2 linked regions of the Homo sapiens genome follow. The protein of the gene in region 1 interacts with the protein of each later gene in a biochemical or structural test. Each region holds a gene or a part of one and is shown on either strand. Other genes may lie near its edges.

Region 1 (3,655 bases):
CCTTGAAATAAATACTTTAGTTTTGGCACCATGATGAGTCAGAGAAAAAAATAGTTCCCATATACTTAATGCAGATGTGTTATCAAACTTATATTATTTACACAGTAATAAAAGGAAATTGAGATAACAAAAAGTACATTATGATATTTTATACATTTTTTTCTTTCTAGACAACAGTCTGCTTTGGTATAAAAATGAACATTAGTAATTGAAAATTGATGACAAATTTTATCAATCTGGCTATCTCATAATTAAGTTGAAATCTGCTATGTTTAACAAAGATGCGTAATACATTTTATATGTTTGTATGTGTCTGTGTGTGTATATATATATATATATATATATATATATATATATATATATATATTTGTCTATCTGTCAACATACTCATTGAAACATTCTTTACAGAAAGAACAATAGAAGACCACGAACTGGTGATTGAAGTGCTATCCAACTGGGGGATAGAAGAAGAAAACAAACTATACTTTAGAAAAAATTATGCCAAATATGAGTTCTTTAAAAACCCAATGGTAAGTGAAATCCCTCCTAATAGTTACGGAAAATAAATGAACCCGTTAAATTTTATGTGAAGAAGATAGTCACTGTAAATAAAATACAGTCCTATTCGGTAAATTGTAGATGAAGACTCTGGTCCTTTGAAATTATACCCATATTTCTTATGCTAACAATGATTAGTGAACATTATACACAGAAGTTCAGATACACAGGTGCAAAACTTTTTAAAGCCGTATTGGTAAAGTCTGAATTGAGATGAATTTGGTTTATTTAATTTAAAAGTATTAGGAAACCTAGTTTTGCCTTTTGTGAAAAGGTAACAATTATACATTTGATGTGGGAAATGAATTTCTATAGGTTCTCACCCAGATTAGGAACAAGTGTTAAGCAAAATATTATATCTTAACACTTTCTATAGAATTTAGGAAATTTAAATAGCTTTCTAAAGTAAAAGCAGACTAATGATTGTTGAGAGTATTATAACTTAGCCAGAAATTAAGATTGACATGAATCTTGCTATTCCAAATTATTTTGTTTTCGGTGCAGTAATTTTTGAACTAAGTAGAAATGAGATAAAGACCAGTGCATTATCTAGTAAATACTACTTTCATTGTAGTTCTCTTTAAAAGAAAATAAATGTGTGTCACATTCTAATGAAGACTAGGGATCTAGAAAAGTCAGAATAGCCTCTGGGCTCATTATTTTAAATTGTTTTTGTCTCTGCAGCTGAAGCATATTTTTACACTAAGTTTTGGATGATAATTGGATTGAAATGATTCTTTATGAAAAATATATGATACACACCATAATAGAATATTTTCAAACCCTGAAAGACCTCTCACGTTGTCTTTTATCTTAACCTATTAATAGAAACATAATGGGATGATCTTTGGCAAAGAAAATTAGTCATAATAAAAATTAAATAAATTCAACTGTGAAGAGAAAGTGTTTCTTTTTGTTGTGAGTCCTTATTAAAGACAAGAATTTAAAAAGATATATTTAAAGAAATATTGTTCAATGCTTGTTTTTTATTTATTTTTTATTTAAACAAGGCTGGACATTTGTTTTGTAGACCTATTGCAGTGGTTCTTAACTGGGAGGTGATTGGACAATGTCTGGACACATTTTTGGTTGTCACAACTGGCAGTAGAGGGGAGGGCTGCTAGTGAGCAGAGGATAGGAATACTCTAAACATCTATAATATGCAGGAGTGCCCCCCCTCAACACAGAATTATTAGACCAAAATGTTAGTAGAACTACTGTTGAAAAACCCTGTCCTAGAGGAAATATAGTAGAATATATTTTCCCAAACTTGTCTAATCATAAAATTTACTGAGGGGAGAGTGCTTATTAAAAACATAGAATCCAGGACTTGCCCGGATCTACTGAATCAGAAACTCCAGGAATGAGGCCTGGGAATTCCTATTTTAAACAACTGCCCTGGGTGAATTTTATGATTAAAAAGTTTGGAAAAATGGTAGGTAGAAAGAACTGGACTTTTAGCTCCCAGCCCAGTTTAAGTCCTGACCTCCACTGTGCTGTGGGCTATGACCTTGGGCATACCCTAAACTCTGTACTTCTGTGAGCCTGTTCCTTGTAAAATGTCATGGATAGTCCTTTTGACCTGATAGGCTGGTTGCGGGACTCAGGAATAAGATGTGGGAGCAAGCACATTGTCAACTTCAGGGCAGTGTTTTATAACTCCAGATACTTGAATCCATCCACATCAGCATTATCTGGGGGCATTTGCTAATCTTTGTGCCCAACTCCAGACATTCTCATTAAGGTACCTATGAGTAGAGTCTAAGGACGGGCATTTTCAAAAGCACTTTTGGGTGAATTTTAGTCACACCAGTTTAAAGAACTTTTGCTTTTGATTACTATATTGGTCATAATTGAATCTTTTCTAGCATGAATTTTGTGATAATTTAACTGTGTCTTTTTGACAGTATTTTTTTCCAGAGCATATGGTATCTTTTGCAACTGAAACCAATGGTGAAATATCCCCCACACAGATTTTGCAGGTAAAATATATTTTTATTAACATATATAAATAATAGCATAATGAAGGAAAACTTTTAAGTCCTTTTTTATACATGCCCAGATTTTGAAAAGTTATGCTTTGAATTATTATTAATATTTTTTGCTGGAGGTAAAACTAAAAAAAAAATGCACCCAGGCAAAGAATGTCCTAAATCAATAAAGCTCTTTAACAATATTCTTCTTCCCAGTTTTAGCCAATTGTCAAAGGATTTTACATATTTAAAAATGTGTGTCTTAAAAGGAAACTTGCAATTTTGTTCTGTGATGTGTGTAAATATTATGTTAGTCTTTAGAAAAATCAGAATTCTTTGTAAAATACAGATATCTTACCAATAGATACTCAGTATCAGCTTTCATAATAAACACCCTCAATCCTATTTGTAATAAAATGTTTAGCAAATAAATGAAAGGAGATAAAAGATACAGGATGCAAATGTATTCACTAGCGTTTGTAATAGCTGTTATGGAAATCCTTGCATAGAATTGTGAAATATTCTTAGCTGAATTAAGAATACTAGTTATCTAATTAAAAATCTCCTTATTTTTGTGTCTATTGGACTCATTTCTTCCAAACTGGCAGTGGCTTGAAATGGTTATTTTCAAAGACATTGTCATTACAATAAATGAATAATTTCAGTTATTTTCTTTAATTTTCGATAGATTTGTAGATTTTACATCAGAAGCTCTACAGTTGTTTTTTACAGGTTAATGTTGAGCAATGTCTTTATAATGGTTGCCGTTTGAGCTCAGCCCCATGCATCCCCAAACCCACTCAGTATCCCCTGATCTTTAATGAAGACAACTTTTAATATTTCCAGTATTGTTTGACCTTAAAAATATTAGGTTGGCAGAGCTATCATGGATTTTTCTGTGGGCTTTTTAATAGGTTATATTTCATTTTTGTGCTTCAGAATATTTTTGAAACATGATTAGTCCCCAGAGATTTTTCTAAAAGCTGCTTCTGTGCTCCTGGGTTTTTACAGAGACACCCTGTCAAAATGTTAGGTAAATGGCAGCAGCAGCTGTGCCCCAGGACTTTCAGATCTCAGCCCTCTGAATGCTTCACCACTGTATTACAACACAGTGGTGGGATGGA
Region 2 (3,151 bases), on another chromosome or scaffold:
CTAAAAATACAAAAAGTAGCCGGGCGTGGTGGCGCATGCCTGTAATTCCAGCTACTCGGGAGGCTGTGGCAGGAGAATCGTTTGAACACGGGAGGCGGAGGTTGCGGTTAGCCGAGATCGCGCCATTGCACTCCAGCTTGGGCAACGAGCAAAACTCCATCTCAAAAAAAAAAAAAAAAAAAAAAAAAATTAGCCAGGCATTGTTCATGCCTGTAATCCCAGCTGCTTGGGAGGCTGAGGCAGGAGAATCACTTGAATCCAGAAGGCAGAGGTTGCAGTGAGCCGAAATTGCGCCACTGCACTCCAGCCTGGGCAACAGAGTGAGACTCCATCTCAAAATAAACAGACAAACTGGGGCTCTTACCCCAATGTTGCTCGGGAATTTTCTGGACTATGCTGGGAGTAATTATTTCTCTGATTTTTTTTGGGTAGTAGAATGGATTTCCCAGGTCCCCTAAGAGGAGGCAGGAGATGGGAGGTTGGCCGGGGTGTGCTGCTGGGGGTGGGGTTTCTTTGAGGTGAAGCCAAACCTGCTCACCTGCTGCTGGCCCCATGGCCTCTTCTCCTGTGCCTGCAGGTCCCTTGTATGTCATCGTGGAGTATGCCTCCAAGGGCAACCTGCGGGAGTACCTGCAGGCCCGGAGGCCCCCAGGGCTGGAATACTGCTACAACCCCAGCCACAACCCAGAGGAGCAGCTCTCCTCCAAGGACCTGGTGTCCTGCGCCTACCAGGTGGCCCGAGGCATGGAGTATCTGGCCTCCAAGAAGGTGTGGAACCTGAAGGCTCCCCTGGGTAATGCCAGGGTGGGAACAGAGCCCCCCTAGTCTTCCAGCCTGTGACTTATCATCTTGTGGTGGCGTTGTGGATGCACTGAGCACTGGCCCTGTGTGCCCTGTGTGTTGTCTTAGGCTCTCTGGGAACTGCAGAGTCAGGAGCACCAGTGTAGCCAGGTGGCCTTGGGGTCAGACTGATGCAGGGTCCGATCTGTGCACTGCCACTTTCTGCGTAGCCTCAGGCAGCTACTTAGCATCTTAAAATTCTTCAAATACAAAATAATAATAATATCAGCTGGGTGCAGTGGCCAAGGCGGGAGGATTGCTTGAGCTCAGGAGTGTGAGACCAGGTTGGGCAATATATTGAAACCCCGTCTTTAAAAAAAAAAAAAAAATTAAAAAATTAGCTGGGTGTGGTAGTGCGTGCCGATAGTCCCAGCTACTCGGGAGGCTGAGGTGGGAGGCTAGCTTGAGCCCAAGAGTTTGAGGCTGCACTGAGCCATGATCACACCACTGCACCCCAGCCGGGGCGACAGAGCAAGGCCCTGTCTCAAAAGAAAATAAAGTATAACAATACCTGTTGTAGAATTGTTATGAAGATAAAATGAAACTGTCTGTGAGTGTTGAGTGCAGTGTTTGGTGTGTAAGGGCTGGCCTGGTTTGAGCCCAGCCCCATGTGGACTTGCTGTGCTGGGAGGCAGGACCTAGGAGCATGCATCGCTGCAGACGCAGCAGAGGCATAAGGGGCCAGTCTTTGGGGAAGGAAGGGAGGAGCGCTTGCTGTGATGAGAAGCCTGGAGCTGGCAGAGAATGTTAGAAGAGGGAAAGCAAAGGTTCGGGGGGCAGAGCAGTGTGGCAGAAGTTCTATGAGACAAGTCGGCTAGTTGCATGGGTGGCGGCCGCCCAGAGCCTTCCAGCTCCCTCACCTCCCCGCCTCCCGCTCTCCCTTCCTCCTTCCTCAGTGCATACACCGAGACCTGGCAGCCAGGAATGTCCTGGTGACAGAGGACAATGTGATGAAGATAGCAGACTTTGGCCTCGCACGGGACATTCACCACATCGACTACTATAAAAAGACAACCAACGTGAGTGCCGACAAGGCCGCCCTGTGCTGGTGGTTTCATCTGAGAAGCAAGGAGTGGGGTGGGCTGAGAACCCACCCCCCAGTCCCTTCCCACCTGTGCCCTCATGGCCCTGCCTGGGGCCACTCCAACCTCCCCTGTGCTGCTTTCAGGGCCGACTGCCTGTGAAGTGGATGGCACCCGAGGCATTATTTGACCGGATCTACACCCACCAGAGTGATGTGTGAGTTTGTAATAGCAATTGCCAGGGAGGTGTGGGATAGAGAGCTTCTAGCACTGTAGAGTCCTGCTTTCTCCCTGGACTGAGGAGTCCTCTTTCTGCCCCAGAGAGAAAAACAAAACATTGTCTGTGGCCATTCCCTCTGCTCCAGATGTTGAAAGGCTGATCTGTTCTCCATGCTGTCTCCTGGCACTGCCCTGGGTAGAGGATTTGTGCTGGGGGAGGGGAGGCGGAGAAGCTCTAACACCCTGTGGCTCTCCGCCCATTTGCAGGTGGTCTTTCGGGGTGCTCCTGTGGGAGATCTTCACTCTGGGCGGCTCCCCATACCCCGGTGTGCCTGTGGAGGAACTTTTCAAGCTGCTGAAGGAGGGTCACCGCATGGACAAGCCCAGTAACTGCACCAACGAGCTGTAAGCCCGAGGAGATGTCGGAGGCCCTGAGCCAGGCCTTGGGGCAAGAGTGGGCTTGAGGGGCAGGGGGCTAGACTAGAGAGTATCCATCTCCAGGAGACGTCCCTGACCTTACAGTCCTGCCGCAGGTACATGATGATGCGGGACTGCTGGCATGCAGTGCCCTCACAGAGACCCACCTTCAAGCAGCTGGTGGAAGACCTGGACCGCATCGTGGCCTTGACCTCCAACCAGGTAAGGCTGCCCGTGCCAGAGCCAGAGCTCAGGCCGTCCCCACTGCGTGCACGCACCTCCCTGAGCAGGGAGGAGGGGCCCGGCCCATCGCTGCTTCCTCTCGCCCATCACAGGAGTACCTGGACCTGTCCATGCCCCTGGACCAGTACTCCCCCAGCTTTCCCGACACCCGGAGCTCTACGTGCTCCTCAGGGGAGGATTCCGTCTTCTCTCATGAGCCGCTGCCCGAGGAGCCCTGCCTGCCCCGACACCCAGCCCAGCTTGCCAATGGCGGACTCAAACGCCGCTGACTGCCACCCACACGCCCTCCCCAGACTCCACCGTCAGCTGTAACCCTCACCCACAGCCCCTGCTGGGCCCACCACCTGTCCGTCCCTGTCCCCTTTCCTGCTGGCAGGAGCCGGCTGCCTACCAGGGGCCTTCCTGTGTGG

The links. The genes of interacting proteins can lie anywhere in the genome.
Region 2: the proteins of GRB14 (region 1) and FGFR1 form a complex in vitro, tested with the Homo sapiens proteins (one study listed by BioGRID).

Annotation. Positions count from the first base shown.
Region 1 is NC_000002.12:164,523,889-164,527,543, reverse strand, and holds part of GRB14 (growth factor receptor-bound protein 14), read left to right. Parts: intron 1-408; coding exon 409-530; intron 531-2,465; coding exon 2,466-2,540; intron 2,541-3,655. UniProt on the Homo sapiens protein: Adapter protein which modulates coupling of cell surface receptor kinases with specific signaling pathways. Binds to, and suppresses signals from, the activated insulin receptor (INSR). Potent inhibitor of insulin-stimulated MAPK3 phosphorylation.
Region 2 is NC_000008.11:38,413,487-38,416,637, reverse strand, and holds part of FGFR1 (fibroblast growth factor receptor 1 isoform 1 precursor), read left to right. Parts: intron 1-577; coding exon 578-768; intron 769-1,736; coding exon 1,737-1,859; intron 1,860-2,008; coding exon 2,009-2,079; intron 2,080-2,348; coding exon 2,349-2,486; intron 2,487-2,614; coding exon 2,615-2,720; intron 2,721-2,833; coding exon 2,834-3,010; 3' UTR 3,011-3,151. UniProt on the Homo sapiens protein: Tyrosine-protein kinase that acts as a cell-surface receptor for fibroblast growth factors and plays an essential role in the regulation of embryonic development, cell proliferation, differentiation and migration.